Regions from separate parts of the Homo sapiens genome. Here all the other regions are linked to region 4. Evidence: fine-mapped expression QTL. A gene starts in region 4. Each other region holds a variant in brackets. All regions are shown on one strand. Distances are between the middles of the regions.

Region 1 (5,383 bases), 71 kb after region 4:
GCTAAGCGACCTTTGACAGGTTATTTAAATTCTCTACATCCCAGTTTCCTTTCTTCTAAAATAAATGGTAATTGATAGTTTTATTGCATAGATTTATTATTCGAATTAAATAAAGTAATCATTGTAAAGTACTTGATACAGTACCTGGCATTTAATAAATGTCCTTTCCATGTCTGGGCCTAAGTAATATGGTGTTGGGCAAACTGTGGTTATGGTGAGGCCACTGGAGTCAGAATAGCGTAGTGCTGCCCAAAGACTGCTGTAATCTGACAGCATCAGCATCATCTGGGAGTGTTTCATTCCCAGTGCACTGGAGATGAGGCCCAGGAATCTGGGGTTTAACAAGCTTGCCAGCTTGTGCACCCTTTAAATGTTGAAATACACCGATATCACTTATTTGTTAAGAGTGTAGCTTCCATAGTCAGGCTGCCTGGGTTTGAATGTTGGCTTTGCTATTGATAGTTGTATATTCTTGGGCAATTTGCTTCATCTGTCTTGCCTCAATTCTTTACTAGCAGTCCTACTTCCCTCATTAGATGCTTGTGAGGATTAAAAGAGTTAATACACATAAAGAACTGAAAATTGCATTTGGCACATAGAGAGCCCTCAATCAGTGTTGGTTGTGCCGTGGTATTTATGATGATGAGTGTAAGTTTCCCATTGCTGCTGTTGCAAATTACTGCACATCAGTGGTTTAAAAAAATATGTATTTATTATCTTAAAGTTCTGGAGGTCAGGAGTCCAAAATGGGTCTCTCTAGGTTAAAACCAAGGTATCAACAGGGCTCCATTTTTCTCTGGAGGCTCTTAGGGACAGTCTGTTTTCTTGCCTCTTCTAGTTTCCAGAGGCTTCTGCATTGCTTGGCTCTTGTCCTGCTCCCATCTTCAAAGTCAGCAGTGGTCCAGTCTTTCTCATCTTGTTTCACTCTCACGTCATCTCTTCTGCCTCCATCCTTTCACTTTTAAGGACCCTTGCCATTACATTGGGCCCACCCATATGATCCAGGATACTCTCCCTGTTGTGAGGTCAGCCGATTAGCAACCTTAATTCCACTTTTCCACATAGCTTAGCTTATTTAAAAGTTCTAGGGTTTAGGACATAGACATTTTTGGCAGACTATTCTGTCTCCCACAGCTGCCACCTTCAAATGGATACTTAGCACAGACCAATGCGTCTCTTATAAGCTCACTTTTCCACTCTCTGTCTTTCCTTTTTCCCACTCGTTTCCATCTCTCATTTCCACCTCTCATGTATTCCCTAACCTGCGTCACTTGACATCCTTTTCCTCACAGAGTTGAGAAGACAGACATCATCAGGTGGGAACTTGCTCATACTCTATCTACCACATCTGCATGCTTACATGAAAATATTCATCATCTTAGCCTCTATTAAAATGGAGGGAATGTCTGCTTTTCTTAATCTAGCATTTCTCACCACTGCCATCCCCCTTTCCCACATCTTAAGGTTCATGTAGGTAATGTGTAAGATTTCCCATCTTACAGAGCCCTCTTCTAAACTTCTGTTTCTTCTCTGGTTTCTCCACCTTGCATTTACTCTTCAGCCCCATCTCATACCCACTTTTGTTGCCTTGTTGCTCACGCATAAACCTGGAAATCAATCTTGATAATGCCGTCTTAGCTCTCGGCCTCCAGTCTATAACAGCACTCCATCTTCCTTAAAATCTTCCCCTTATTTGCCATCACCCAAGTTCTGAGCCACCAACATTTCTTTCCTGGACTACTGCTGTAGCCTCTGAACTGTCCCCCCACTTCTATGTGTGCCTTCCTGCATTCCATCCTCCATTCCACAGCTAGAGTGATCCTCTGGAAATGAAACTGTCACATCTTGCTCCTCCTCCACATAAGCATTGAATGACTTTTTATTGCATTAGGGTAAAACTTTTTAAAAAAAGCTAATCTGGCTCCTGTCACTCTAGCTTTGTTTCTCCCTTATTCACTGTGTTCCAGCCAGTCTTACAGCTTGCCAAATGTGGCATGCACTCTTCAGCTTCAGAGCCTTCCCACATGCCTGGAATCACACCCCCACCTCCTTTTTTCCTTCCCTTACTATACCCTCAACTCTCCAGTAAGCTGCATATGGCCTCTCCCCTTGCACACATCTGTGGGACTCATTACAAAACTGAGAAAAACAGAATTTTTACAGAGTTCTTCCAGGACTAGTTAATTACCTTCAGAGATTTATTACTTGAAAAATTTATTGATCAGATTATCACTGTATAATTGGTGTGCCAGACATCAGGAGAACCTCTTTACGAATTGTGGGGAAGAAAAAAGGTGAATTTCCATCTTGCATATCTTTTTTTTTTCCTCTTCAACTTTTATTAGGTTGGTACAAAAGTACCTCAATTACTTTTGCACCAACCGAATAAGTTCTGGGGTACATGTACAGGATGTGCAGGTTTGTTACACAGGTAAATGTGTGCCATGGTGGTTTGCTGCACAGATCAACCCATCACCTAGGTGTTAAGCCCAGCACGCATTAGCTGTTCTTGCTGATGCTCTCCCCCACTTCCCACAGGCCCCAGTGTGTGTTGTTCTTCCCCATGTGTCCATGTGTTGTCATCTTGCATATTTTACTGCAGACATAGTTGTGATTATAATGGAGAGAAAATGTGAAATAATCCTTTTTCACCTCTATAGTACTTCACAAAAGTTTACAGGTACCAGTTAGAACCTGGTGCCCCCTACTATGTATATATTGTCTGGGGTATATTTGTTTCCCAAGTGTTCTTGCTAAACCCAGTTCATCAGATCCATATGTAGCTTTTCATGGATGAGAAGCGAAAGTGGTAGCATGATTATTTGGTGTATCCTGAAACATGACTTTCGTTATTTTTATAGTGACCTTAATTATCTGACACTTTATTAATATTTCTTTCTGTATCTTATGTTGCAGACTATTCAGACTATGAAGACAGTTCCCTCGAATTTTTGGAAAGGTGCTCTTCTCCACTAACTC[G/A]ATCTTCTGGGAGTTCTCTGGCTTCACGAAGCATGTTTACGGAGAAAACTACAACCTATCAGTACCCAAGGGCAATTCTATCCGTTGATCTTAGTGGTGAAAGTATGTGTAACCATGTGATGGTTAAAACAAGACTTACAATTCCTAAATGTGTAACTGAGAATAAAACGTACTCTGTTAAGAGCATGCGATTTAAAAACTTGTTAGCTAAACTAATATGAAAGTCTTGATGTGAGAAATTTGAGCTACTTTTTAATTTATATAAAGTTAAATTGGCTTTATACTTATTGGTGGAAGAGAGTCATAAGGAAAATATTACTAGTGTATATACTTCTGTAGGTTTTTGCACATATATTTTTATATTCTTCACTATCAACTGACAGAGTAGGTATTATTCACATTTGATATATAAACAAGCCGAAACTTACAGGGTAAGTAGCTTTTCGGCTTAGCTAGTGTTAGAATTAAAACTCTAACCAAGGTCTGTCTTAACTCCGTAGATAATGCTTTCTTAAATAAACATTTATGGTAATCTTAAAAGTATACTTTGAATTCCTGGTCAGATACATCTGTAACCAAAGTCCTGAGATGTAGTCAGACAACTGATTTAAACACAGGCAGGAACTAAGCGCCCTTAGGTAGTCAGAAGGCCACGTCAGCAGTGAAGGGAGCACTGGAGTTCAAATCTGTTAGACTTTCCTGCAGGTCCAGTCCTGACAGTGGAAAGTGTTGAAGACTCTTACCTTGCTTCCAATATTGTAAGCAATAGGCACAGAGATCCCAGCTGTAGACATTGAGGGCTGTGGCATAAGAGTAGAGCTCTAATGCAATAGCAACCAGAGTCAGAGAGTGAGGAATAAGGGACGGGGCCTTCAGCATAAGTACAACCTAGGATCCTTGTGAGTGAGCTCACTTCCTCCCTTTTTCTTTCTTCTGACTGACCTCGATGGTGGATACTAGGTTAAATGTTTGCTTTTGCACCGTTTGCTTCCAGGTCTAAGTCCTCCCTGGCTCGTTATGGAGAAAGCATTTTCTTTCCTTTATAGCTCATGACACTTGTGAGATTTTATTTTTAGAACCTTGAGGTATGGGAGGGGATTAAAAAAGAAGTTACCACCACCCTTTTCCAGCAAATACAAGTCTACTTTTTCCCATGGTTCAGTGGTTCTTCACCCCCGGTGAACCTTACAATCATTGCTGCGGTTCTTCTAAACTATACTGATCATGGATCCTACCATGAGGCACAATTGAATGAGATTTCTGGAAGGATCCTGGCAAGATACAACTTCTAGGTGATGCTATGGAGAAGCAGAGGTTGATAATCACATTAAGAACATCCTTACTGTGAATCATCAAGATCTGAAGATTATCTCTTGCTATAGAAAGATGGAGAATAGGGGTTATATCTAGGCTAGTTGTGGTGCTGAAACAAGAACCCTTGAAAGAGCATGAAAAGAGCCATAGATGTGTACTCTCTGTTCTTAGTCTCTGCCCTGCCCTTATGATCAAGTACTAAGTCAGGAGAAAGAAAAGGAAAATTAATAAGGCCTTAGGCCAGAAATTCTCAATGTTAGCATGTGTCAGAACTGCCCAGAGAGTGTGTTAAAACACATTTCTGGGCCTCACCCTCAGAATTTCTGAGTTCCAGCAAGTTCCCCGGTGATGATAAATGTTGCTGATCAGGAAACCACACTTGCAAAATGCTGTCTCAGGAAATAGCAATGACAATTTAAGGGGTAGTTGCTGGAAGGCAACAGCTGTTCTTGTGGCCACTCAGTTGGAGCCATTGTCTAGGTGGCTATTCAAGCGTAAGGGGGAACTTTTATTTGCTTCTTACATAACTTTCAGCTCTGTCATCCATTTTACTCAACTTCCAAAACTCAGCTAAGCATAAGTTTAATGCTTGGGAGTTATTCAAACTAGATTTGTGGAGAATATGATAAATTTGCTTGCTAACACCATAAAACTGGTAATCTTTGCCATGCAAGTATATGTGAGATACACTAATTCCTTTCAATGATATAATTTCAAATTAATTTTTATTTATTTATTTATTGAGGCAAGATCTTGCTCTGTTGCCTAGGCTGAAATACTGGTGTGATCGTAGTTCATTGCAGCCTCAAACTCCTTGGCTCAAGCAATCCTCTTGCCTCAGCCTCCTGAGTAGCTAAGACTACCAGCACAGGTCATCATGCCTAGCAAATTATTTTTGCTTTTGTAGAGATGAGGGCTTGCTTTGTTGTACAGGCTGGTTTCAAACTCCTAACTTAAAGTGATCCTCTCACCACGGCCTCCCAAAGTGCTGGGACTAGAGGTGTGAGCCGCTGTGCCCGGCCCATTTAATACTGTTTATATGCTGCAACAGTGTTTGAAACTGTTTTACCCACATTCCAATGAACTTGAG
Region 2 (5,383 bases), 50 kb before region 4:
ACCTCTGTCACAGATGGATCTGCAGGATATTAAGGTTATACTCTCCACTCCAAGTAGTGGGGCTCAAGAGCAACCATCTGGCTGGAGCCCACTGCTAGGGGACATGTCCTAAAGTCATTTTGCACAGCAACACACTTTATACACTTGGAGGAGAATCAGTGGATGTTGTGTTCATTATCTATCACCATGTAATGACATTAGCACAAGCTTAGCAGCTTAGAACACACATTAATCTCAGTTTCTGCAGAGGTCTTTAACTGCGTCCTCTGCAAGGTTGTAAAGAAGGTGTTGTCCTGCACCGGCCTCTCATCTGAAGCTTTCACTGGGGAAGGCCTTAGCCATTGGGTCCTGGAAGATATCTGCATTCCAGAACTCTGGAACCTATGACTAGATTACCTTATGTGGCAAAAGGACTTTGTAAATGGGATGAAGTTAAGGATTTTAAAATGGAAAGATTATTCTGGATTATCTGGGTGGGCCCCATGTAATTACAAAAATTATTTAAAGAAGGAGGCAAGATGTCTAAAGTCAGAAAAGGAGATGTGACCACAGAAGCAGAGGCTAGAGTGAAGTGGTTTGAAGATGGAGGAGGGGGCCAGGGGCCAGGGAATGCAAGCAGTCTCTAGGTTTTACCCTTGTAAGGCTCATTTTGGACTGACCCCCAAAACTGTAAGATAATAAATTTGCATTGTTTTAAGCCACCAAATCTGTGGTAACTTGTTACTGTAGCCATAGTAAGCTTATACAGCCGGGGAGAAAATGTCCTTGTCAACAATGAAGCATTATATGCACGTAAACAGTTAGTACTATTTCAGTATCTTACTTTGAAAAACATTATCATTTAAATCAAATGACTCTGTAGAAAAATGTGTGTTACACATAGACAAAGGAAATGTAGAAATTCTCAATGGAAGTTCTCCTAATAGTGTATTAAATGAAAGGCTCCATATGCATTTAGTTCTCCATTAAATTCATTTTAAATCCCACTTCAAAGCATTCATGCACGTGGATTGTGGATCACTTTGTGATCACTTAACCTACTTGTAAAAATGGCAAAGGCATGGGACATATCCCAGACCTACTAAATTATTACACGAGGCTATTTCAAATACAACTGTGGTAAGCTTACTAATGGTCCCCCAAAATAGCCAGGTTCTAATCATAGGAACCCATCAATGTTACCTTATATGAAAATAGGGGCCTTGAAGGTGTCATTAAGTCAAAGATTTTATCTTGGATTATCAGAGTGGATCCTAAATGTAGTCTCAAGTGTCCTTTAAAGAGGGAGGTAGAGGGAGATTTTACTGCAGAAGAGGAGAAGGTGATGTAATGATGGAAGTAAGAAATCAGAGTGGTGTGCTTTGGAGGTGGAGGAGGGGGCCACAAGCCAAGGAATACAGACAGCCACTGGAAGCTAAAAAAGGCAAGGAAATAGATTTTTCCCTAAAGCCTCCAGAGGGAAAATAACTCTGCTGACCTTTATTTTAGACTTCTGAGCTCCAGAACTGTAAAACAATAACTTTGTGTTGCCGTAAGCCACTTGGTTTAGGGTAATTTGTTAAGGCAGCAATAGGGAAATAATACAGTCTTCAATGAATGATGTTCTGCCATGATTTCTCAAAAAAATATATATATACATATATATATACACACACACAAATATAAATTTGCTGATGACTTCACTTATTTATTAGTTTATTTTTTAACCAAAAATGTACTAAATGCAAATTATATATAAAGTTATATTTTGGCATTATCATTTCGAGCAAAGACAATTTTCTGCATGTATGAGTTTTTACTCAGAGAGTATCACATAGAACAAATTTGAATTACAGGCCATATTTGCTTTGTGAACACGCACCAAGTGTGGGGGGTGGAAAGGGAACATCTACAGCCCTTGAGTCAAGGCTCAAGGGTACAACTGCACCATTTTCATGCATTTGAAAGCGCATTGGTGTTTTGCCTATATTTTGCCCTCAAGGCATTTTTCTGTGTTATATCTTTAAGTGACATTAAAGTGAAAGGTAATTACGAGCCCCAAGAAGATTAAAAACTTGGTTTAGAACGTGGTTCAAAAGAATATAACTTTCAGAAAATGCTTCTTTCCTGTCCATTTTCATATTAACCATCATCTACGGTTACCACCTAATATCAAGTCACTCCACTGAGGTGAATGACAAACTTTTGCAGCATTATATTTTATGTACAAATTGCATTTATTGTTATTCAAGTTGTCAGGTTGGTATTAGTTAGACAAACTTGCTCTCATTATTCTATTAAAGCAATTCAGCAAGAGATAGGTGCATGTGGCAGACCCAGAAATCTGGTTACAAGCTCCTCACAGAATTTCCTAATGAAAATTCAAGCTCGAGAACCACTGCCTTAAAGAATCATAGGGGGACATTTATTCCAGGCGGTCTCTTTTCCATCACATTCCCCGTCCTTTTCCTTTCAACTGCCGGTGTTTGCAAAGGGAAGGCAAATTAATATTATTTTCATGAGCATATTATAATTTTGATGGAAAAACTGAGATCATTTTAAAATCACATAGTCAAACTAAAATGGCTTTTTCTCCATTACTCGCTTACTCCCTTCCAATAAAACACTTGATTCCAAGTAGACTGCAAGTTGGACAATTTCCAGATATTCAGATGGAGGACATTCATC[G/A]AAGGCATTCCTAAATGGTTGTCAAATTTTGACAAACCTAGATTGGAGAAATAAGAAAAGAAATGCATAATTCATCCCCATGCACAGGAAATGCAGTATCTAATCACTGCATACCCATTTGCGCATATATAAGCACACACCCACACCCATACCCACAACGGGCCTGAATTATCACAACTAGGAAGAGTGCAGCCTCAACTAAGGGTACTTTTCGTTTTTGCTTTTATCCCAGCAGTTCTTAGTGCTCTCCTTTTTGTCTGAAAGACTATAGAGGTTTTGACCCCTCAGCCCAGCGTGGTACTTAGTTAACTAATATTTCCTATGGTTTCCTCTTCCCACCTGCCCTTATGGCATTTTTCTGTATTATATCAGTATTTTAATTGCACTTTAAGTGAAAGGTAATCATGATCCTCAAGAAGATTAAAAACTTGGTAAAGAAAATGGCTCAAAAGAATACACCTTCCAGAAAATTGCTCTCTCCTGCCCCGTAGAACAGCCTGTAGGGTAACAGGTGGATTTTCCCCATATTTTTATTCCCTAAAGTTTATTCACTCATTCATTAAGTATACGAACATACATTCCTTCATTTAAGAGAGAACAGATGTGACCCATTTTGTTACTATGAAATCATAAGTGTGCAAAACGTGTACCGCTGATGCTAACACATCATTACTAACATGAGATACCTGTGCTGACCTTCATTTGCAAGGGACACTCAGGCCAGTGGTGGACAAGACAGATAGTCCCTATCTTCACAGGCTTTAAATTTAATCAGGAAAGCAGTTGACTAAGAATTTCATTATGTTATGAAAAGGGATATGATGTGAGCCGTGTGAGGTGCTAAAGAGGCACCTAATCTAATCTAACTTGCACAGTGCAGGATGGGTGTGTGTGTTGGGGGGAGGGTGCTGCATTAATATTTGTTGAACTGAATTCAGTTCCTTAGATTCTCATCATTGATTGTTAGAGGAGACTTATGAGTCATTCTTGATTCTCGATATTAATAACCATATCTTTGGTTTATTAGTTTCTCGGTATGTTTATATAAGAAGGAGAGGGTTGCAAAATCTTTAATATACACGCAGAGCTCTTGGCTTTCAAGGAAGTACTTCAAGAAATGATGCAGTAAATACATTAAATTTAATGAATATGTACAGAGTACATACTATTTTCAAGGCTTTGGTTGTAGATACAAAAATGAAGTCAATAGTCCTTGTTTTCACAGGTCTTAAATGCAAATGTGTGTGTATATGAGGCTGGTGGGCAGGAAACAGGAAAAAATGGAGTTGGGAACAAGAGAAGAACAAGTCAAAGTATGTACACAAATAATCAAAGAAAGGATCTCCTTCCATAAATGAGTCAGAAGATAAAAGTGTTTGTTCAGGATAGAAATATTGTCCTGATGTAATTTCTTTTGGGAGAGAACAAACAATGAGCTCAGAACAATGGGAAGTTCTGAGAAAACAGCAGGTGATATAACCCCTGCAGATCGGATATTGGCTCTTCCAGGAGGCCCTCCCTGAACATACTCCCCACTCCTCTTAGTCTGGGAAACTGACCTCCTTGTGCTCCCCCTGGCTCCTGTACTAACCTGATATTTGCACTTACCATATTAAAAGGCAACTTCACCTTGCCCCTTACAAGTCCTTTACTCTAATGAGATGATAAAATCTCAAAGCCAGCCACATGCTGGGGCATTCACACCCTGGTACCTAGTGACTGTGTCTAACCCATGGTAGACACTTCATTAACAGCAACTGAGCTAAACTTGGTACCCCATACCGTATAGAACATATTGTAAATTCTTAATAAAGATTTGGTAACTTAGGTGGTGCCACTTTAGAAATCAATAATTGTTTTAAACAAATGTCATTAACTCCTTTTTCTTTTTTCTTTTTTCTTTTTCTTTTTGTTTTTAAGACAAATTCTCTCTCTGTAGCCCAGGCTGAAGTGCAGTGGCATGGGCACAATCACAGCTCACTGCAGCCTCCACCTCCCAGGCTCAAGCAATTCCTCCATCTTAGTCTCCCCAGTAGCTGCAACTGCAGGTGCGCATCAGCACACCCAGCTAATTTTGTCTATTTTTCGTAGGTCTCACTATGTTGCTCAGGCTGGTCTAGAACTCCTGGACTCAAGGAAGTCTCCTGCCTCAGCTTCCCAAAGTGCTGAGATTACAGGTGTGAGCCACCACACCCAGCCTTGTCATTAATTTCAAGGGCTAAATTATAAGGATTTCTTGAGCTACCCAGAGATTCGATTTTCTAAATATCAGGTTGAATAAAACTTAGCTGTATGTGCACCCCCAGAAACCAGAAATACCCAGAAATTATGGGAAGCATCACTCAAAATGTCAGTAAGTCAATATTGGCTAGAATCCTAACCAAAATAAATTTTCACTAAACCCCATTGTGATTTCAGAATTAGCGCAGATTTTGTAAGAGTGCCATGGTGAATTACAGACCTCAGTCTCCAAGCCATGTGAGTTTGCCTCTGGCAGCCATATTGAAGTGAAGGTAATTAACACAGTCCATCGTGCAATAGGATGGTGCTATCCAGACTGTTTGAAATTCTATGGGCATCCCAACCAGACCCCAGTAACCCTTTGAAATATGCTGAACCATGGCAGTTAACACACAAGGGGATCATTAAATGAATAAGAGAAGGCACAGAAATCACAGTTTGTAACTGAGATCATTTCATGGGCAGTTTGCCAGCT
Region 3 (5,383 bases), 160 kb before region 4:
AGCAGAATAAAATAATAAGCAAATGACTGGCTGGCTGACAGAAAATATTTAAAAAATCAGATAAGGAATGAATAAGGACATTTGGGGGTTTCATTCTTCAACTAATATTTATTTGTTGTAATATTTATTTACCAGAAGGCAAGTACTATTCCAGTCATTGGCTGAATCAAGGTCTCTACTCTCATAATCCCCACATTTAGATAGGTAAAGACAAATCATACAAAATTTAACAAATAAGGCCATTTCATACAGTAATCAATACTGTGATCAAATAAACCAAGTAATATGGCTGAGAAAGATGACTGTGACTTATAGAGATTGTGACTGGCTATATTAGCTCTGGTATTAAAAAGAAAAGTCCTTCTAAAAATGTAACATTTGAGCCCAAACCTGCATAATACAAAGGAGACAGATGTTGATATGGTTTGACTCTGTGTCCCCACCCAAATATCATCTGGAATTGTAATCACCATGTGTCAAGGAGGGACCTGTAATCCCCCTGTGTGGAGGGAGGGATGTGATTAGATCATGGGGGCAGTTTCCCCCATGCTGTTCTCTTCATAGTGAGGGAGTTCTCAGGAGACCTGATGGTTTTATAAGGGGCTCTTCCCTCTTCACTTCCTTCACAGGCTCTCTCACCTGCTGTCATGTAAGATGTGCCTGCTTCCCCGTCCACCATGAGTGTAAGTTTCCTGAGGCCTCCCAAGCCATGCAGAACTTTGAGTCAATTAAACCTCTTTTCCTTATAAATTACCCAGTCTGGGGCAGTTCTTTATAGCAGTGTGAGAACGGACTAACAAAGGAAATTGGTACCAAGAATGGGGGTGGTTTCCCCCATGATGTTCTTGTGATAATGAGTGAATTCTCACGAGATCTGATGGTTTGATAAATGGTAGTCTTTCTGGCTCCCTCACACACTGTCCTGCTGCCACGGTCCACGTTTGCTTCCCCTTCACCTTCCACCATGATCTGGAGGTCTCCCCAGCTATGTGGAACTGTGAGTCAATTAAACCTCTTTCCTTTATAAATTACCCAGTCTTGGGTATTTATTTATAGCAGTGTGAAAACAGACTAATACAGATGTAAACAGAGAAAGGGGCAGAAATGCTCTTGGCAGAAAAAGCACAGAAAACACAAAAGTCCTGCCGGTGGGAACAAGGTTCCAGAAACTTATTGGAACCTTCTGTATTCCAGAACCTTATAGGAATTTCCTGTGTTTCAGAACCTTTTTGGAATTTTTTGTGTTCCCGAAAGAGAGAGAGACAGAGGGGAAAAAAAAAAAAAAAAAAAAAAAAAAAAAGCTGTGTCCAGAATATGAGAGGAGAAAAGTGGAAGAAGGTATCAGAAACATAGGCAGAAACTACCTTGTACACAGCCTTCTGGGCCACAACAAGAAGTCTGAATATATTTCAAGTGCCATGGAAAGCCATTGGTAGGTTTCAACACGGGAATAAAGCTATTATTTGCAAGATGTATATTTTTATTTTGCAAAATTTACTTCTTTAAAAAAAATAAATAACAACCACGTTGAAATAATTACACCTGAGCACAGACAAAAGACTGAAAAGAAACAAAACAAAATGTTTATCCAGATAGTGGGACCATGAGTTATTTTTTTCTTTACATTGTGTTCTATTTCTACAGTCATAATTTCATAATAGGAAAGAAAAAATATTTTAAAACACAACTATAAACGAAAAAGTAAATAAAAGGGCATTCTGGCTTCTCTATGGAGAAAGTATCAAAGAGGGGAAAGAATAGAGCAGGGCAAACCGTGAGAAGGCTGTCCAAGGTAGTCCAGTTGGGGGAGGACACTGGCTTGATGGGAGGTGATGGTGGGAGGTGGTGTTAAGAAACTGAATTCAGGATGTATTTCAGTAGTGGTACCCGCAAGATGTAGTTAAGCATGCCTCCTAATCATTGACTTGAACAACTGTGTATCAGTTGATGGCGCCATTTTCTGAGACAAGGATGACTATGGGAGGAGCAGGTCTGCAGAAGGAAATCATGGGTTCATTTGGCTATTTTAAATTATTGAGGCTGGATATCAGCAAGATAGCAGGATAGGAAGTCCATGCTGACCATGAATTCATGTGGCCCGTCAATTGGCAGGTGCATACAAAATGTCATTGATTCTCAGGCCAATAATTTGCTAATATTTATATTATGAGGAAAATTTTTAAAGATGTAGTTACTGATATGTATATGTAAAATCAACACTGACAGTTACATAAGGCAGTTATGTGGCCTTGAGTAACCAGAGAGCAAATCTAACTATCAACTGATTCCTTCAAAATTATTTTCTACTTGGAAGGTCACTCTTCTGACAGTTCCCCATAGAAGATCATCCACACATTGCAGTCTAAAACTGAAAATATTTTATTAAGTTAGGACAAACATTAAGACTGAGAATAATATATAAAATGAAAATAAAATTTTCTTTTACAATCTTGCTAGAGACAGTCTCTAAACATGCTGGAGAGGGTTTTGTGCCTTAGGAAAAAAATGACATCCTGAATTCAACCCTTCTGTCTGACCTGCAGGCTAAGTACCCAGGACCTGAGGCTCCTCCCACTCACAGTAGTGGTGTTCACAGTAGGTGATAAAGTGAGCAAATAACCAGGCTGACTTGCCTAGGCTACTTTAGCCTCACTGCCTAGGAGAAAGCTTCAATATCAGGAACACTGGAATAAAACAAAGAGCGACACTCCCTCTCCTGTTGCCCCCTGTAAGGATCCAGAGTGATGGGGGCATCAGCCTGGTTCCCAGCCTCGAAGGGACTGTGATGAGATCTGTCCGACTAGGGACAGCTGTGCAGGGAATTGCCACAGTCTATGGCTTCTCCCAGTTGTCTTGAATTGTTGTCTGATGTTGTCTTATGTTTTCCTCCTCATTGCTGGCAATTAGAAGAATGACCTGTCATCCACCCCAACTGGCCAATGGGAAAAAGGGACAAAGCCCATTTTAAGTGGCAACTTTGCAGTTCTGCAGAAGCTATGAAACCAAGTCACAGAAAGACTGTGTTTGGAGCCTTTGCAGTCAGGGACAGAGACATCACTTGACCAGTGGAGAGCTAGCCTTGGGTCACCTCTTATTTTATTTTTAAAATAACCATATACAGATTCATGGATATAAAGAATACAAGAAAGATGCAGTTGATGGGTCTGTTTCAAGACGTGGCTGTTCCCCAGAGCCCACCGAGCACTGCCATTCTTGAGAGCACCACCTGCCCTGTGTGTAGCCCTGAGGAGCCTTCTCCCTCATACCTAGGAGCCTCACCTC[G/A]CAACGGGAGGCCTGTGAGTTTCCAGTGCCCGCAAAGCTGATTCCATTCTTGGATCAAGGTCAGCTGTGCAGGGAGCTCCTGGTGAGATCTGACTTACCTTCTGAGCAGCTAGGGCCTGACCTTCATCTGGTATCTACTATATGTTTATTTTGACAAGAATGTATGAAGTTGGCAGCAATAGATTTCATTATTTAAGTGACATTTGTTTATTTCACTTCCAGGAAACACAGAAAAGAGAAAAGACAACCCCTTGGTCTGGGAGGATGCCAGGCAAGGTTTTAGAGAGGATGCCCATGATTTGGAAAAGAGGCTTCTCTATAACCTTGAAGAAAACAATTATCTGCAAATAATGTGTATTTCCTTGTCCCCAGTTGACAACAAGCTGGGTAACTATGCAGGTTATCTTCCAATTAAAGTGGTATGAGGAATCATGGAAGAAAGGATACATTTCATTGTATCTACTTTTGATCCTCAACAATTTTCTTAGTGGGGTTGGGGGGGAATTTCACAGGAGAATAAAGACTGCTAAGATACTGATACTCATGAAATATCCTAAACCACTTCCTTATTTTAGAGTAGAAATATTGGGAACAAAATTTTAAAGGTGAAGCACTTTACTATATTAAGCTGCTAATGATCCAAAAGTAATCTGGCTGTAGATGAAAATTATGAGGCATTGTTTGTGTTCATTTGGAAACATACCCTATGATTTAAGGCAACATCAGAATTTCATTTCCTCTTCTGCAAAATGATAATCACCCCTACTCCATAAGATGTTCAAAGTATTCAACACTGTGTGTGGCACATGGTAAATGCTCAATAAATAGTAGCTATGTCTTTGTCGTTATTATTAACTGGTATAAGGATAAAAGCAAGAGCCTAAATGGTGTGTCTACTTATCACATTTATTACAGGATTCTGAAAGAAGAGAACTAATGACCCCAATCTAGTGTTTTCTATGACATGACACATCTATTTATTAAATTATGACCTTGGGAAATGTATATAACCTCAGCAAGCCTCATTAAATAATCTGGATAATAAAAATCCCCAGGTTACAGGGTTATTGCAGAAAGTGAGTTGTTTAAACTGTTTATCACAGAGCATATACAATTTTTGCTAAATAGTCATAATTGTAGATATATGAATGTAGGTGGTAAAGTCTTTCAGGGCAGGGGCCAAGCCAATTTTATTTTTCTATTCATAAAAAGTATAGCACAATATCTCCCAGACTGAAGGTATATAAAATGTTTTCAGTTTGTGCAGTGGGTATACATGTAAAAACCCTAAGTATAAATCCTGCAGTTAGCCATTATCTCTTTAAATATTATCTCTGCTAGAAATAAAGATGTTCTTTGAAACCAATGAGAACAAAGACACAACATACCAGAATCTGTGGGACACATTTAAAGCAGTGTGTAGAGGGAAATTTATAGCACTGAATGCCCACAAGAGAAAGCAGGAAGATCTAAAATTGACACCCTAACATCACAATTAAAAGAACTAGAGAAGCAAGAGCAAATGCATTCAAAAGCTAGCAGAAGGCGAGAAATAACTAAGATCAGAGCAGAACTGAAGGAGACAGAAACACAAAAAACCCTTCAAAAAATCAATGAATCCAGGAGCTGGTTTTTTGAAAAGATCAACAACATTGATAGACCGCTAGCAACACTAATACAGAAGAAAAGAGAGAAGAATCAAATAGATGCAATAAAGGATGATAAAGGGGATATCACCACCGATCCCACAGAAATACAAACTACCATCAGAGAATACTATAAACACCTCTACGCAAATAAACTAGAAAATCTAGAAGAAATGGATGAATTCCTGGACATATACACCACCCCAAGACTAAACCAGGAAGAAGTTGAATCCCTGAATGGACCAATAACAGGCTCTGAAATTGAGGCAATAATTAATAGCCTACCAACCAAAAAAAGTCCAGGACCAGAAAGATTCACAGCCAAATTCTACCAGAGGTACAAAGAGGAGCTGGTACCATTCCTTCTGAAACTATTCCAATCAATAGAAAAAGACAGAATACTCCCTAACTCATTTTATGAGGCCAGCATCATCCTGATACCAAAGCCTGGCAGA
Region 4 (5,383 bases):
GTATCTAGGACAAAGAAAGGAATTTAGACTTTCAGATTGGGCTGGTTGATTTGTAGGGAGAAAACTGTGGGTGTGTGAGGGAGAGTTAGAAGTGGGGTTTTGGGAGAAAATAACAAGAGGAAGGAAGAAACTTGAAACCACTACCGTTTTAACAGCGCTCTTATTTTCTGCAAGTAGCTATCAAAATCATTCAGCATTTTTTATATACAAACAGTTTTGCATCTTAATAGTAGCTGATAAACAATCTCCTTTCACATTTATGCACAGGCATCTAAAAAAAAACGGTGATTTTTTTTTTTCTACTAGAAGGAAAAATACCACATTTCTTTCAAGGAAAAAAATGAAGTTAAAATCATTGCCAAAGTGAACACTGGCATTTAAGAAGCACAAGCTACTGACAGATGGTTAATGGTCTGAGTATCAGCAAAATCAAAGCAAGGAAATTGCTAAAAGGAGTCTAATCGTTCAAAAGATAATTGCGTATCACAGTTCTTCTACATTTACTTGCTACTGGTGTTGACATCAGTTGAGATATTCGGTACATCTTGGGAAGGCCGCTTGCTCAAACTTCACAGATTCTCTGCAAAAGATGTTAAAAAAAAGGTGGACTATATATTAAAAATAGAAAAATTATGCCAAAACAGATGGCATCTACTAATTGCACTAGTCAGATTTGTTTACTGAAATAATACAGAGATACAGAATTGAAGGTAGGAGACCAGACTGAAGACACAACCCCTCTAAAGTTGTGTCTGCCTCTATGACTGAACATTTTCCATTGCCTCACTCAGTGCATCTCAATAACATTTTTCTGTAAATAAGAACCACACTTTATTTGGAAAATCTAGACTTAAAAAGGTTGATTTGTAATCCAAAGAAAATAATGAAAGTGAGGTATTTGATTAAGAAATCTTAATAAAATGACTGGTTCTAACAGTCATTTAGCCCCAAAACAAACTTACGTGTATTTTAATCATCTGACACAAGTCAACTTCATTATCAAGTTTCAAACAGTGCTTGGAGATTGGTGTCTGTCTTTTTCCCAACAACTTGAACCATTGACAGGTAGTCACAGAGAGTGATTTTAATAGTTTTTATCAGCCTGGACATTCCTAAACAGCATAAGTAATGTTGCACTAAAGATAGCATACCATTGGGAAGATTTTAGAACTTAGTTCCCATGAAGACATGATTTAATTTCTCAATTACTAATTAAAAACATATCAAAGTATGTAAATTATGCAAACTTTGATCATTTACTGTTCATCAAATAGAACCAACTTCTGTTGACTATGAAACTTTGTATATAGTATCACTATCCTAATCGCTTTATAAGGTAGGAGTAAATTATTTTCTGATTCACCACTTATGGCCACATTTTGTAACATGAGAACTAGTAATGGATTGTTTTTGTAGCTGTAATTCAATCAATCAAACCAGGCTAATTCTACAGCTTCAAGTTGAATATTTCAATAAATTATATATAAACCCTATTAGGAAAATATAAACCTGGTTTATAGAGACCTGTAAAGATGTCAGGAGAACTTTCTGGCCTTCCTTGGAAGATTTCTAAATCAAAGCACACATTTACAAATTTCATTTGTTTGGGATATAAAATAATCCCAGTGTAATGTAATATATTAGTATGTTACTTGTTCTTTTCATTTTTGATCAATATTGTACGGGTATGCCCAGCCCAAATTACCTTATTTTAGTGTTCCCCAAGTATTAAGCTTAATTTTAAGCCTATAAATCCTGCAGCAAAAGAAGGTCTTATTGCTCTATCTCACAAGTGCTTAGAAGAATCTACAGGCAGTACACTGACATTCAATAGAAAATTAGTAACAGTAGGAAAAAAAAAAGCCCTTCAGTTACAGATCTAAAACTTTTCAAGAAACAGAATCTGCCAGTTCCATCAAAGCGACACATCTATTCTGAAAAATAATGTGTGCATACGTGTTCCTTCCAAAGGGAGTTCCCAGCCTCTTCTTCCAATTGACAAAGGACAAAATTATTACTGAAATACGAAGCTTCCTGTGGTTGACAGTGGAAAAATTGAGGACTGAGCAGTTCCTCGGCTGAAAAATGTCTGAATGTCAACAGGTGCAGAAGTCTCTTAATAAAGGGAATCCCACCCTACCTTCTTCTCACAGATGCCCACGCACATTGCTGTGCACAGGTGCTTGCAGAGAAGTTTTGTCTTCGGCAGCCTCTTGTTCTCTTGTCTGTTTCCTGGTATAAATGAGTGTATAGTTCTTGGGAAAGTCAGTCTTACAACTTCTCTTGTTTTCTTTTGAAAACAGCCTGCGTAACCAGAGGCAAAGAAGCAGAATGAGGTCACACTTCCTGTTGGGCTCACATCAGTGGCATTCACACTGAGGAGTGTGCTGAAGATTTCAGAGAGTTTCCTGGGCCAGCAGCAGGGAATGTGCAGCCCATGTGTCAGGCCAGCTGGTTACACCCTGGTCACTGGAGGGGTGGTTTTCTGAGCTAACTTGTCACCTTTGGCTGCGAGAACGTGAGAAAGACTCAGCGAACTGACATTTCTTGCTCATCATATGGCCACATTCAGTTATAAGTAGTGCAGAGTAGTGATCTTTGTCCAAATCACTTAAATTTATTGAGGATAATGCACTGATGCTATTAAATTCAGAATACTATTAAATAGCAAGAGCTTGATCTTATGAAAATTTCTATAGAGGCAATAGGTTTATCTAATGAAGGTTGGACTTCACAAAAAACTCTATAGATGGCATTTTACATTTACATTATAGTAGAGCTCAAAGACTTGATGGTGTTTATGGGTTCATACACATCTGTACTACTGTAAGTGATAAAAGAAATGTACATTCAAATATATATTCCAGCAACATTGAGGTACCACTGCATAGTGGAAAGAGTGCGGATTCTGGGGTCACAAGACAGAAATTCAACCTGTCTACCATCCTAGCTGTGTGACCTCAGATTTGTGACTTACCCCTCTGAGTTGCAGTTTTCTCAATTATAAACATAAAAATATATATGTCATATGATGGCTTGAAGAATTAAATGAAATAAAAGAAATGAGAAATAATCGAGTCCTCAGCACAGATGTGCAAGGTGTATTCTTTATTTGTTTTCTTAAATCAAGTTCTCTTCTGAGGCACCAGTTGGTCCGGCTGGCGGAAAAGTTAATCTCATCCTTTCCTGGGGTTCCCTTTCCCCCTGAGGTTCTGCCACATGGCAGGATCTTCTGTAGAACATGTTCTAGGCAGCAGGAACTGTCAGGAGGAGGGCCCATCTAATTTCAAAGTTCTCTGTCTCTGGAACTTCATGTCTATTCTCCATCCCTTGAGTGTAGACTGAGGCTGCTGACATGCTCCTTGTAAATAAAGTAAGGCAAAGGTGCTGAGTTTCCACTACCATGATGAGGCTTCCATCTTGTTGGACTCTATTACTTTCTTGCTTGCCTGCTTTGATGAAGCAAGCTGCCATGGTGGAGAAGCCCATGTGTCAAGGAATCAAGAGTGGTCTCAAAAGCCAGTAAGGGTCTGATGCTCCATCCAACAGCCAGGAATCCAGCCAAAAACCAAGTGTGTGAGCTTGGAAGTGGATCCTTCTCCAGTTGAGCCTTGAGCTGACTGCAGCCCCATCTAATGCTCGATTGGAACTGGGAAAGACCCAGAAGCAGACAACCCAGGCTAGCCCTGCCCAGCTCCCTGGCCCACGCAAACTGGGAAGTGACAAATGGTATTTCAAGCCACCACGTTTTGAGGTAATTTGTTACACAGCAACACATAGCAGATGCATAGTCCTAACACAGGTCACTTCCTGAGCCATCTGTCATTGCTGACTCTCTGCTGCTTTAGTGACTCCTGTAGAATATAGTCACATTTACTCAAGGCTACTCCTGGTCACATCTGCCTAAATTTAACAGACAGCTATTCTGCTTCACAGCTGTCTGGTATTCTCTTTACTGGAATTCACAGTTCTCTTCTTCTCCTTTTCCTGTTTTTCTTATCCCTCATCCTCCCTCTTCCAGCCTTGGCTTATCTCTTCTAGATGAGGGAGGAAAATCTTTCTGACTTATTCGAGACCCTCTGCTCTTCCTGTGCCCACAAATCCACTTTTCCGAAGAGCTCACATCAGAAAGACTTTGGTCTACTTTTTTTTTTTTTAAAGATCTGGCACATATTAGAACCTTATTATTAATGATCATAATAATTGCTAACTTTAAGGAGTGCTTACTATGTACCAGGCACTGTTCTAAGGTCTTTCCACATATCAACACATTAATTGTTACATCAATTCCATGGGAGATGCTGTATTATTATTCTCATTTTACAGAAGAGCAAACTGAGTTTAGAGAGTTGCCCAAATTCACATAGCCAGTACGTGATGAGTAAGTAGAGCTAGGATTCAAACCCTGATGAGATGGCTCTCGAGTTTGCTTTCTTAACCTATAAGTGTAATGATCATATCCAACGTGTGTCAGCATTTTCTACAAACCAGGCACTGCACTAAACACTGTACATATGTAATCTTGTTTCAACCTCACGTAGCCCTAGAAAATAAGTGCAATTGTTATCCACATGCAGGACAGAGGTTTATAGAGTTTGCATAAATCTTTCAAAATTGCCAATGGCCAGAACTAAATTCCAAACCTATGGTTCCCCTCTCAATCTTCTCTCTTGAGACCCACTCATCTTCTTCTTGTTTCTCATACACTAGACACGGGTCTACTTCAAGATCTTTGAGGTTAGTGTTCCCTCACCCTAAGGGTCACAGGGCTTTCTTCCTCCCCTCCCTCAGCTCTTTTCTCCACTGCCTTGCTACTAATTAATTGCCCTCCACACCACTCCCTAGTCTCTTCCTGCTTTATTCTTCTCCTTAGCACTTTTTACCAAGGAATATGTCACACAATTCATTCCTTGTAATAAGAAACGTACTCCTCAGCCAGAACATGAGCATTAAAAGAGCAGAGAATATTGTCATTTTGCTTCATTTTAATAGCCCAAGTATCAAGAGTAGTGCTTCCCATATAGTAGGTTATCAATTAATGTTTGTGGAATTAACAAATAAATTAATTACATCCAGGTAGACTTGCCTTCAGAACCTTTATTCTGCATGTTATAAATCAATGTTTCTAAAAGCATGTTCCACAGAATATTCAGTCCTCCACTGTTAATGGAGGTGATGCGTGTGGATGGGGAAAAGACGAGTGGCAAATTTCAGTACAAAAAGTTCTAGAAAGCATAGGTCTCTAATAGAGGTCACTATAGAATCTTTTAAATGATACTCGGACTTGCTACTATACACAGGAAACATGGTCTCACCATCTGTCAAAATTATTTGCCTTGAGAATCTTTTGGTCACATAATATCTCCCAAGACCCCAGTTCCAG
Region 5 (5,383 bases), 64 kb before region 4:
TAAGCCACTCAGTTTATAATACTTTGTTACAGCAACCCTAGCAAACTAATACAGGGCAAAGATGAATCCTAAATTTTTAATTTGTAAAATTGAATGATGCCACTGCCATTAACTAAGATAGTGAAGACAGTAGAGGGACAGATTTGGAGGAAGTGGGAACTACAAACTCTATTTTGGACATGTCAAGTTTGAGATATGTCTTAGCCATCCAGATGGAAATTTTGAGAATTAACTTTGGCATATGCATGAGAAACAGAGGTCCAGGCTGGAGATCTAGTTGGAGGAGTCATGGTTTACAGAGGTGTTTACAATCGTGAGTATGGATGGCACCACTCTAGAAGTGAGTTTAGGCAGAGAAGAGGTCTGGCATACTCCAAAATTTAAATGCTGAAAACATGTGGAAGAATTACCAAAAGAGATATAAAATGAGTTTGGTAAATTGAGAAGCCAAGTGGGAAAAGTGCTTTAAGAAGGAGGGAGTCATTACTTCAAATACTGCTAGGTCAAGTCAACATGTGGACTAAGAACTGACCATTGGATTTAACAACATTGAAGGTTGTTGACGTCTTTAACATGGGCTACTTGCATGGACGGTAGGAGTCAAATCCTAATTGGGGTGGGTTTGAGAAAGACTTGAAAGAGAAGAAATGGAGACAAATAAGCACAGAACTCAAATCTACCAAGGAATTTTGCTGCTACTGTAAGCAGAGGAATGGAGGAGGGGAATTGTTCTAAGCAACGAAGAATCAAAAGAGGTCTTATTTAAGACAGGTATTATTACAACACGCTGGCATGCTGCTGCTGTAGGAGGGAGGGGACAATTCCTGGAGCAATTTTTATAAGTAGATAAGAGAGGGTGGGCTGCAATGCATGAGTGGTAAATTGGCCTTAGACAGCAGCAAGAACTTTCCTTCTATAGAAACAGGAAGGAAGGCAGAGTAGGAACAGATGCCCGTAGGTGGGATATATGAGGTGGCAATAGCTAGCTGTATCTTCATAATTGTTTCTATTTTCTCAGTAAAATAGAAACGAAGGACATCATCTAAGAATGAGACTGGGCGAGGAGGTACTGAAGCTTTGAGGAGAGAGGATAAGTATGAAATAATCACCCGGGGAATGGGAGAGTGAATTAATAGGACTTAGTAAGATGATTGCGAGGCACCACCAAACACACCATGAGGCTGTGGTTATGAATTCAAAGAAAGGCCCGGATGTGTGTTTTTTTCACAAGGCATGTTTAGCATGTGGGTGAAGCTGAATAATAGTTAGAGTATTCGATTCAACCAGAATTAGAGTTTAACCCGGAAAGTACAATGAATGAAGAGAGATACAAGGGAATGATTTTATTGACAGCACATGGAATCTAAGCTGAATAAGAACACAAAGGAATATATGATTGAGGATAAGTGAAAAGGTGTCAGGACCAGTGGAATTTGATCCCAGTCATTGAAAAATTATTGGGAGAAAGAATGAGCTGGAAAGATGGTGATGGTTAAAAGTGGAATGTTCGATATTGATGGCATGGGGGAGGTGCAGTTATGGGAATGACAAGGTCCAGGCTTGACTGTGAGTGCATATGCCTAACTTGGGGTTAGGATACAAAGTTATAAGCAGGAAAGAAGCAGAGAAAGTGGGTTGCCAGGAAAAATGCACATGAAAAGATAATCAACATCATTATCCATCAGGGAAATACAAATCAAAACCACAATAATATACTACTTCACATCCACTCAGAGTTGGCTAGAATAGAAAAGATAGATATTATGAAGCATTGGAGAGGATGTGGAGAAACTGGAACAATCACACGCTGTGGCTGAGAATACATAATAGTACACTCACTTTGAAAAGCAGTTGGCATTTTTTTTTAAGTTAAGCACAAATTGACCATATGACCCAGCAATTTCATTCCTAGGTATCTCATAAAGTCATGTATGTGAATTTCATAGCAGCATTTTTCATAACCAAAGGGTAGAAACAGCCAAAATGTCCATCAATTGGTGAATGGATAAACAAATGTGATATATTTACACAGTAGAATACTATTCTACTATAAAAAGTAATGAAGTAGAGATTCATGTTGCAGCATGGGTATGCCTTGAAAACATTATGCCACATGAAATCAGTGACAAGATTGGGTAAAGAAAATGTGGTGCATATAC[A/G]CCATGGAATACTATGCAGCCATAAAAAAGAATGAGATCATGTATTTTGCAAGAACTTGAATGGAGCTGGAGGCCATTATTCTTAGCAAATGAATGCAGAAACAGAACACCAAATAACACATGTTCTCACTGATAAGTGGGAACTAAATGATGAGAACGCATGGACCCAATGAGGGGAACAGCAGACACTGAGGCCACTTGAGGGTAGAGGGTGGGAGGAGGGAGAGGAGCAGAAAAAATAACTGTTGGGTACTAGGCTTAGTACCTGGACACAAAATAATCTGTACAACAAAGCCCCATGACATGACATGAGTTTACCTATGTAACAAACCTGCACATGTACCCCTGAGCCTAAAATAAAAGTTAAAAAAGTTAAAAACACAAAGACCGCATATTGCATGATTCCATTTACATGAAATGTCCAGAATAGGCAATTTTATAGACTGTTAGTAGATTAGTGGTTAGTAGCCTGGGGCTGAAGGATGGGAATGACAAGTGACTGCAAATGGCAGAGGGATCTTTTTGGGGGTGATATAAGTTTTCTAAAGTTGGACTGCAGTGATGCCTGCATAACTGTAAAACTAAAAATCATTAAATTGTATACTTGAAACAACTGAATGTTACCTTGTATAAATCATAACTCAATAAAGCAGTTTTTAAAAAATATCCAAAATAATCCCAGCACTTTGGGAGGCCGAGGTGGGCAGATCACTTGAGGTCAGGAGTTTGAGACCAGCCTAGCCAAGATGGCAAAACCCCATCTCTACTAAAATTACAAAAATTAGCTGGGTGTGGTGGCATGCACCTGTAATCCCCGCTGCTTGGGAGGCTGAGGAAGGAGAATCACTTGAACTTGGGAGGAAGAGGTTGCAGTGAGCTGAGATTTTGCCACTGCACCCCAGCCTGGGAGACAGAGCGAGACCCCATCTCAAAAAGAAAAAAAAAAAATCCAAAAATAAAAATAAAGAAACTGATGGGCCAGAGTATGAGAGGAGACATCAATGTGTATGTGGAGCTCACCAAGAATGACTGGAATCGTACTAGAGAGATTGACAATGAGAGAGATGCTAAAGTCTTCAAGAAATGAGGAGTTAGTATTTGCACGTAGAAGCAGCAGCAGATAGTGCAGTCTGGTGTCATGAGCTTCAAAACTGGAGGTTTTAGGGGAGAAGAGGGGATAATCATCCAGTAGGTGCAATGAGAAGCAAGGAGGACCTCAATCTTACTTCTAGGGCCAGTGATACAATAAGAATGGGACAGAAAATATTAATAAAATGTATGTATTTATAACTTGTCTTTAATTATCACAACACCCCTGTGAGATAGGCAGGGAAGCACAAGTGGAAAACATCCTGGACTTGGAGGCAGACCTCACCTTGACTCCTCCAGTGGTTGACAATTGACCTCAAGCAAGTGACTCACCCTCTTGGACCCTCACCTGTAAAATGGGAACTATAATTCCTATCAACCTCGCAGCACAACATAAGGCAGAGTGTTCTGAGCATGAGACTAGAGTAAGTATGCACAAACCTATCCCACACTTCGTAATAGACCATGGAAAGCTCTTATCCTCATATACTCTTCATTTGTGCTAACGAGAAACCTGAATTTCAGAGAGGTTAGATGATTTTCCCAAAACCACACAGCACTACAAGAGAACATAGATCTTCTGACCCCTCCCAGCCAGCTGCCACCCCTTGCAAAGCTGCTTCTCAGGGGCAACTCTCTTCCAGGGTTTCTATGCTGACTCTGAAACATAAATAATAGACAAGCATTCAGTTCCCTTTGGTACTGTGAAATCATCACACCAGAGAATTTCTAAAGCTAAATTACAATGTGCCTGGTATAAAGAGGGCATCTTGAATAATCTGGGCACAGTCAATATTTCCACCACATGCCATGCCACCTGAAGCTCTCTTTCTCTGCACCAGACACAATATATTCCTTGCCAGTTCACTAATGGGTCATATCCAGCCATCCACTCCTTAAGCAATTACTTATTTCTGGAGCTTCTGTTCTGGTGAAAAAAATAGGGCAGAACAGAGAGGAACCAAGAACCAAACCAAACCAACAAAAATCACACACCACAAATGAATAAGAATGATAATTTCTGACTGGGCACGATGGTGCACACCTGTAATCCCAGCACTTGGGAGGCCGAGGCGGGCTGATCACCTGAAGTCAGGAGTTCAAGGCCAGCCTGGTGAACATGGCGAACGCTGTTTCTACTTAAAATATATATATGTATACATATATATATATATATATACACACACACACACACAAAAAAAATTAGCCGGGCGCCATGGCAGATGCCTGTAATCTCAGCTATTTGGGAAGCTGAGGCAGAAGAATTGCTTGAGTCCAGGAGGCAGAAGTTACAGTGAGCTGAGATCACACCACTGCACTCCAGCCTGGGCAACAGAGTGAAACTCCGTCTCAAAAAGAAAAAAAAAAAAGAATGATAATTTCTGATAATGAGATAGTTGTGTGACCAGGGGTGGCGTGCCTGAATAGGGAGAACATCCCTAAGATGCTAGGGACATCTTCTCTGTGGGGGAGGTATTTGCATGATGAGAGGAAGTTGGCCCTGAGAAGTTCAGAAAGAAGAATGTTTCTGCCTGAGTGTCCTACAAGTGCCAAAGCCTTCAGGTAGAGCTGAGCTTGGTGATGTTATAAGAACAGAAAGGGGAGCAGTGCTAGGCGCTGTGATGTACTAAGCAAGAGGAAATGTAAGGTGGGATTGAGGGTAATTAACAAGGAAGCCAAGTGGCCTGATGTCAGCTTTAGAGAGATCACTGTAATTGCTGTGTGGAGACTGCAGCCTGGAAGAGTGAAAAGAGGGAAGGCCAGGTAGAAAACTTTCTCTGCCCTGGAATAAGTTGCTCCCTTTCCTTCAAATATCCTTTCCCATTTTCCTTACCTGCCAAACTCACTCACTCACTCTTTTTTTTTCAAGAGCACTTCACAACCATTTACAATAGCCCCAAAAGTGGTAATAACCCAAACATCCACCAGTGGATGAATGAATAAACAAAATGTGTTATATCCAAACAGTGGACTATTATTCAGCCATGGAAAGGAAAGAAGTGCTAATACATGCTAAGATGTGAGTCGGATAAACATACAAACATTATGTTAAGTGAAACAAACCAAATGCAATAGGTCACATATCATATGATTCCAGTTATATGAAATAGACAAAATAAATCCATAGACAGAAG
Region 6 (5,227 bases), 40 kb before region 4:
CACAGAGACAGAAAGTACATTAGTGGTTTTCAGGAGGTGGAAGAGGAAGGAAAGGAGAGTAACTGCTAATGGGTAGAGGGTTTCTTTTTTCAGTGATGCAATTGTTATAGAATTAGAGTGGTGATGGTTGCACAATTTTGTAAATATACTAAAACCACTAAAGGTGCACTTAAAAATAATTTTTAAAATCTGTTTAAAAATACAATGAATAGCATTTTTTAAAATGCAATGAATAGCATTTTACATATGTCATTTCACACAATAAATTATTTGAAAAGGCCTGGCCAGGTCAAAGGAGATATGTAACTTTAAACTTGGTCGACATTATGGAATCTCCCTACCTGGGGATTTTCTCTTTTTTTTTTTTTTTTTGAGACAGAGTCTCGCTCTGTTGCCCAGCCTGGAGTGCAGTGGCACAATCTCGGCTCACTGCAAGATCCACCTCCCGGGTTCACACCATTCTCCTGCCTCAGCCTCCCGAGTAGCTGGGACTACAGGTGCCCACCACCACGCCTGGCTAATTTTTTATATTTTTAGTAGAAACGGGGTTTCACCGTGTTAGCCAGGATGGCCTCCATCTCCTGACTTCGTGATCCATCTGCCGCAACCTCCCAAAGTGCTGGGACTACAGGCGTGAGCCACCGTGCCCAGCCCCCCTACCTGGGGATTTTAAGAATAAATTGTTAAAAATTTCACAGCAATGATGGAGCATGTCTGCTATTTCACAACCTTGTCAAAAAAGTGTGACCAAGCATTTGAATTTTTGCCAATATGATGGGTGATGATGTCACTGAGTAGATTTATTTCAAAAAAGAATAGTATTTTTATTGTTTTTATTTTCAAAATGTGAATCATTTGAAAGAGATTACGAATAAATACAAAAAGGAAAAGAAAATATCATCAGAAAAATCCCACCATATGGAAGAAGTTATTAATAAAATCTGGTGAATATCCTTTGGAAATCTCTTTATATGCATTTTAAAACTGTTATTCTAAAATGAGCTCTAACATAAATACAGCAAAGCCTATAAAGTGTACAACTTGATTTTGATTTTTTGTATAAACACCTGTAATTGCTACCCAGATCAAGATATAGAATATTTCCCGCGCCCTTTAAGGTTCCTTGGTTGTCCTTTTCAGTATATACCCTCGGAATTAATCACTATTCTTACATCTATAATAATTGATTTGTCTTGCCTTTTCTTGAATTTTATATACACAGGTTGAGCATCTCTAAATAAAAAATTCAAAATCTGAAATGCCCCAAGTTTGAAACTTTTTGAGTGTCTACATGATGCCACAAGTGGAAACTTCCACACCTGACTTCATGCCACAGGTGCAGAAAATTCCCTAAAATATTGTGTAAAGTTACCTTTAGGCTGTGTGTATATGAAACATAAAGGAATTTTGTTTAGATTTGATTCTCATCCTCAAGATGTCTCATCATGTATATGCAAATTTTCCCAAATGTACAAAAAGTCCAAAATCCAAAATACTTCTGGTTCCAAGCATTCTGTATGAGGCATACTCAACCTGTATGTGCAAACATATCAACTTTCCTGTCTGTCACCTATCACTTACTATGAGAAACATCCATGCTCTTGCCCACGTCTATACAGTTTTAGTCAATTTTTAATTCAAATAAACATTATTAGAATAATTTTAGATATGCAGAGAAATCAGAAAATTAGGACAGAGGGTTCTCATGTGGTCTCCAGTCAGCTTCCTCTATTATTATTACTGTGGTATGTTTGTCACAATGAAGGAACATGGTAATGTACCAACACTGGTACATTACTATGATCTCAACTCTACACTTCATTTGGATTTTTCCTTTTTCTATTCCAGGATCCCATCCAGGTCACCACATATGTTTAGTCATTGCGTCTGCTAGGCTCCTCTGGGCTCTGAGAGTTTGTCACTTTCCCTGGTTTTGATGACCTTGACAGTTTTGGAAAGTCCTGCTCAGATAATGTGTTGAATGTCCCTTAATTTTTTTTTTCTGCTATTTTTCTTTTGGCAGACTGGGATGTGGAAGACCACAGAGGTAAAGTGCCATTCTCACCACGTCGTATCAAGGGGACATGCAATCAGTGTAACTTATCTCTGTTGATGCTGACTTGTTCACTTGCAGCAGTGTTTGTCCTGTTTCTCCACTGAAGAGTTACCTTTCTTACCCCCTTCCTTACTCTACTCCCTGGAAGAAGTTTCTAAATGCAGCCCTCCCTTAAAGGATTAAGAGTTAAGCTCCGCCTCTTAAGGGAGGAGTATCCACAAACATTAACCTAAGAAACATACCATTTACAGTCCTGTGAAAGAAAAGAAAGGGCTCTGCGATCAACTTGGAGGTGCGGAAAACACGAAGTGAAATAAAGCTAGACGTGTTCCTTCACCACATTATTTCACTGATTATTATACTAATGCACATCATGGTCTTCCAGTTTGGGATATAGAATGCAGAATTTTGCAAATTTATTTTTAACCACAGAAGCACCCCCTCCGACACACACACACTCCACTTTTGTTCTTGTGGTCCCATTGTGATCTAAAAATGTTTTGCAAACCTCATAATTATCTGGGAAGCTTATTTTAAATTACCAATTCTCAGTAAATCTTAATTAGAATCTCAAGAGATGGGATCTAGGACTTTGTATTTAAAAAAGCACCTCCTCCAAGTGATGCTGCTGTATTTGACCCTCAAAATGTGGGACTCGAGAGCAGGCAGCCCTTGCTGGCCAGAGTTCAAGAACCATAAAGACCCCTGGACTGTTGTATTCACCTTTGTTTCATTGATTCAATAAATATTGAAGAACCCCTGGCACTGAGGATACTGAAGTGAGGGAGACGCACAATGT[G/A]TCTGCTGTCAGGCAGCTCACATTCTTCTAGGGAGAGGCAGATCCCATTAAAACTTCAACAGCTAATCATGTCACAGGTCAGGGGGTAATAAGTGCTCAAAAGAAAAGTAAAGCAAGGTGCATGCGACAAAGAGTGGCATGCTATTTATAAAGGATTTTCAGGGAAGATCTCTCTGATGATGTGACATTTGAACGGATTTTGTAAAGAAGTAAGGTCACAGGTAATGAGGCTATCTGGAGGATTCTAAGAGGCAGAGTGAAAAGCAAGTGCAAAGGCCCTGAGACAGGAGTGGGCCTAGCACCAAGGAACCTGATCACTGCCCTGGAGACTTGAATAGGGAAAGGAAAACAAGGCAGAGGAAGAACATACAGGTCAGAGGGTAGAGAACAAACATACCTATAAGAAGGCATGAAGAGACAATTTATGTGGGGATATACAAATACAATGGGAAGGGTGGAGTCTCTGCAGGGACCCTAAATCGCACAGTGGGAACTTCAAGTGGCTTTAAACTCCAGCTATACTTAGAGTATATCTGTTAACAGGAGCCACTTCTCTTTGGAGAAAAAGCAATCCACTGTAAAATACAATTTTAAGCAACGTACACTGGGTTTTGTATGCTTTCTAGGTGGTTTTCTTTTTCTTTTTTTTTTGTCTTTTTTTTTTTTTGGCAGAGCTTTGCTCTTGTTGCCAAGGCTGGAGTGCAATGGCGGGATCTCAGCTCACTGCAACCTCTGCCTCCCGGGTTCAAGCAATTCTCCTGCCTCAGCCTCCTGAGTAGCTGGCATTACAGGCATGAGCCACCACGCCTGGCTAATTTCATACTTTTAATTTTCACCATGTTGGTCAGGCTGGTCTCGAACTGCTGACCTCAGGTGATCCTTCCACCTTGGCCTCCCAAAGTTCTCGGATTACAGGCATGAGCCACCGTGCCTGGCCCACTTTCTAGGTTTTGTATGCTTTGTGAGAGGATAGAGGTGGGCAATGAGAGATAAAGGGAAACTTATCATGGACAGACACATGAACGAATCTCAACCACAGAGCTACCTAAAATGTTTTGTGGAATAAGGCAAGGAAATCATCAATCAGCTATAGTTTCACTAATTATGAAATACCGCTGCATGAAAATAAAACGTGAATTACCTTGCACATGCAGAAATGATTAAGCACACAGCAAGCAGGATTGCCTGAAAGAAGACCTCTTGCAACAACCTGGTTTCTAATAGGAAGAACAAAAACAAATAAATTAGAAATCATTGCTGATTCAATCATCTTGGAAGAAAAAATCATCTCAAACTTCCCTTGTACCCACCAAAAAAAAAAAAAAGTTTTGGAATGTATGTCAGTTCAAGCAATGTGTCATAAATAACAAGATAAAATTACCTACTGTTATACAGGGCTGTCATTAGAAAATTTCTGCAAATAATTACTTTCTTCAATCACTATAAAATAAAAGACTATGCTATTTTCACAGTTTAGGGCTTGCCTTTTGATTTAATGTTGGGGAAAGGCTTTGTAGAGTTTATGATAATGTAAGAAATCTAATTCTGTCATTGTGATAATAATAATGTCTAAAATCTGTAAAGTGCCTTATAATTCACAAAGAGCTTGTATACGTTAGTTCACTTAAACAGCACAACAACGCTGTGAGGTGGATGCCATTATCTTAGTTCTGCAAAGAGAAGAAAAAGACTAAGAGAAATGATGAACTTGTCCAAGGTCACATAGCTATGAGGTGTCACAGCCAAGATTTAAAAACCACATCTAGACAGAACATAACATTTTGTCTGAAGTGGGCAGGGAAAGACAATTGCAACTTTGCATAATGGAAGTCTCTAAAGACAAAAAATGAGAACATATATTATGAAATATTTGTCTTTGAAAACTCTTTGCAATCAGTACAATATTTCAGTACTGCCAAGCCACAGTAGAAACTACAAATTATCCAGCAATTATAAGCATAAGAGTTAATTCAATCATGAACCTCAGTATTATTCTAATCACCTTAAATAAATTAAAGCTGATTTGAGGATTACCACATAAAAAACCTAAAGGAGAATATAAACAGACCTCAACTTAATTTTTGCCAAATGCTTCAAAAGCTCAATTTTGCAACAGTTGTTTAAAACTTGGAATGACTTTATGTTATGAATGCATTTATTTTTGCTATTTATGCCATGAATGAGGATTGAGTCAGCTAACAAAACCTACTTAGCCCATAATGCGGGTGGAATGCTGAAGATTGGCAATTCAAAATATCACAGTAGTAAATTATGTCACTGCAAATGTACAGTTGTTCATGTACATTGTGAATTCAGTTATTGTGGGTTCAACTGAATACTCAACCATCCTTCTAAAGTGTGTTTCTATTCTT

The links.
Region 1: its variant is fine-mapped to the expression of TMEM71 in whole blood (INTERVAL, PIP above 0.99).
Region 2: its variant is fine-mapped to the expression of TMEM71 in whole blood (TOPMed, PIP above 0.99).
Region 3: its variant is fine-mapped to the expression of TMEM71 in whole blood (INTERVAL, PIP above 0.99).
Region 5: its variant is fine-mapped to the expression of TMEM71 in whole blood (TOPMed, PIP 0.93).
Region 6: its variant is fine-mapped to the expression of TMEM71 in whole blood (TOPMed, PIP above 0.99). The same link has a PIP of 0.9 or more in blood mononuclear cells.

Annotation. Positions count from the first base shown.
Region 1 is chr8:132,829,319-132,834,701 of GRCh38, forward strand. PHF20L1 (PHD finger protein 20 like 1) reads left to right here. Exons shown (of 21, transcript NM_016018.5): 15 at 2,917-3,081. Among named protein-coding and RNA genes, the nearest start is that of TG, 35 kb to the right of the region's middle. The variant G/A (reference allele first, on the strand shown) is at 2,980.
Region 2 is chr8:132,708,279-132,713,661 of GRCh38, forward strand. TMEM71 (transmembrane protein 71) reads right to left here. Exons shown (of 10, transcript NM_001382403.1): 10 at 1,663-2,704. The coding sequence ends at 2,689. Among named protein-coding and RNA genes, the nearest start is that of DNAAF11, 35 kb to the left of the region's middle. The variant G/A (reference allele first, on the strand shown) is at 2,668.
Region 3 is chr8:132,594,078-132,599,460 of GRCh38, forward strand. All of the region lies in intron 10 of DNAAF11 (dynein axonemal assembly factor 11), which reads right to left. Among named protein-coding and RNA genes, the nearest start is that of HPYR1, 35 kb to the left of the region's middle. The variant G/A (reference allele first, on the strand shown) is at 3,283.
Region 4 is chr8:132,758,336-132,763,718 of GRCh38, forward strand. It overlaps TMEM71 (transmembrane protein 71), which reads right to left and starts at 2,247. Exons shown (of 10, transcript NM_001382403.1): 1 at 2,141-2,247; 2 at 505-580. The coding sequence starts at 544.
Region 5 is chr8:132,694,529-132,699,911 of GRCh38, forward strand. It overlaps a transcript of DNAAF11 not described here. Among named protein-coding and RNA genes, the nearest start is that of DNAAF11, 22 kb to the left of the region's middle. The variant A/G (reference allele first, on the strand shown) is at 2,160.
Region 6 is chr8:132,718,044-132,723,270 of GRCh38, forward strand. It overlaps TMEM71 (transmembrane protein 71), which reads right to left. Exons shown (of 10, transcript NM_001382403.1): 7 at 3,997-4,072. Among named protein-coding and RNA genes, the nearest start is that of TMEM71, 40 kb to the right of the region's middle. The variant G/A (reference allele first, on the strand shown) is at 2,856.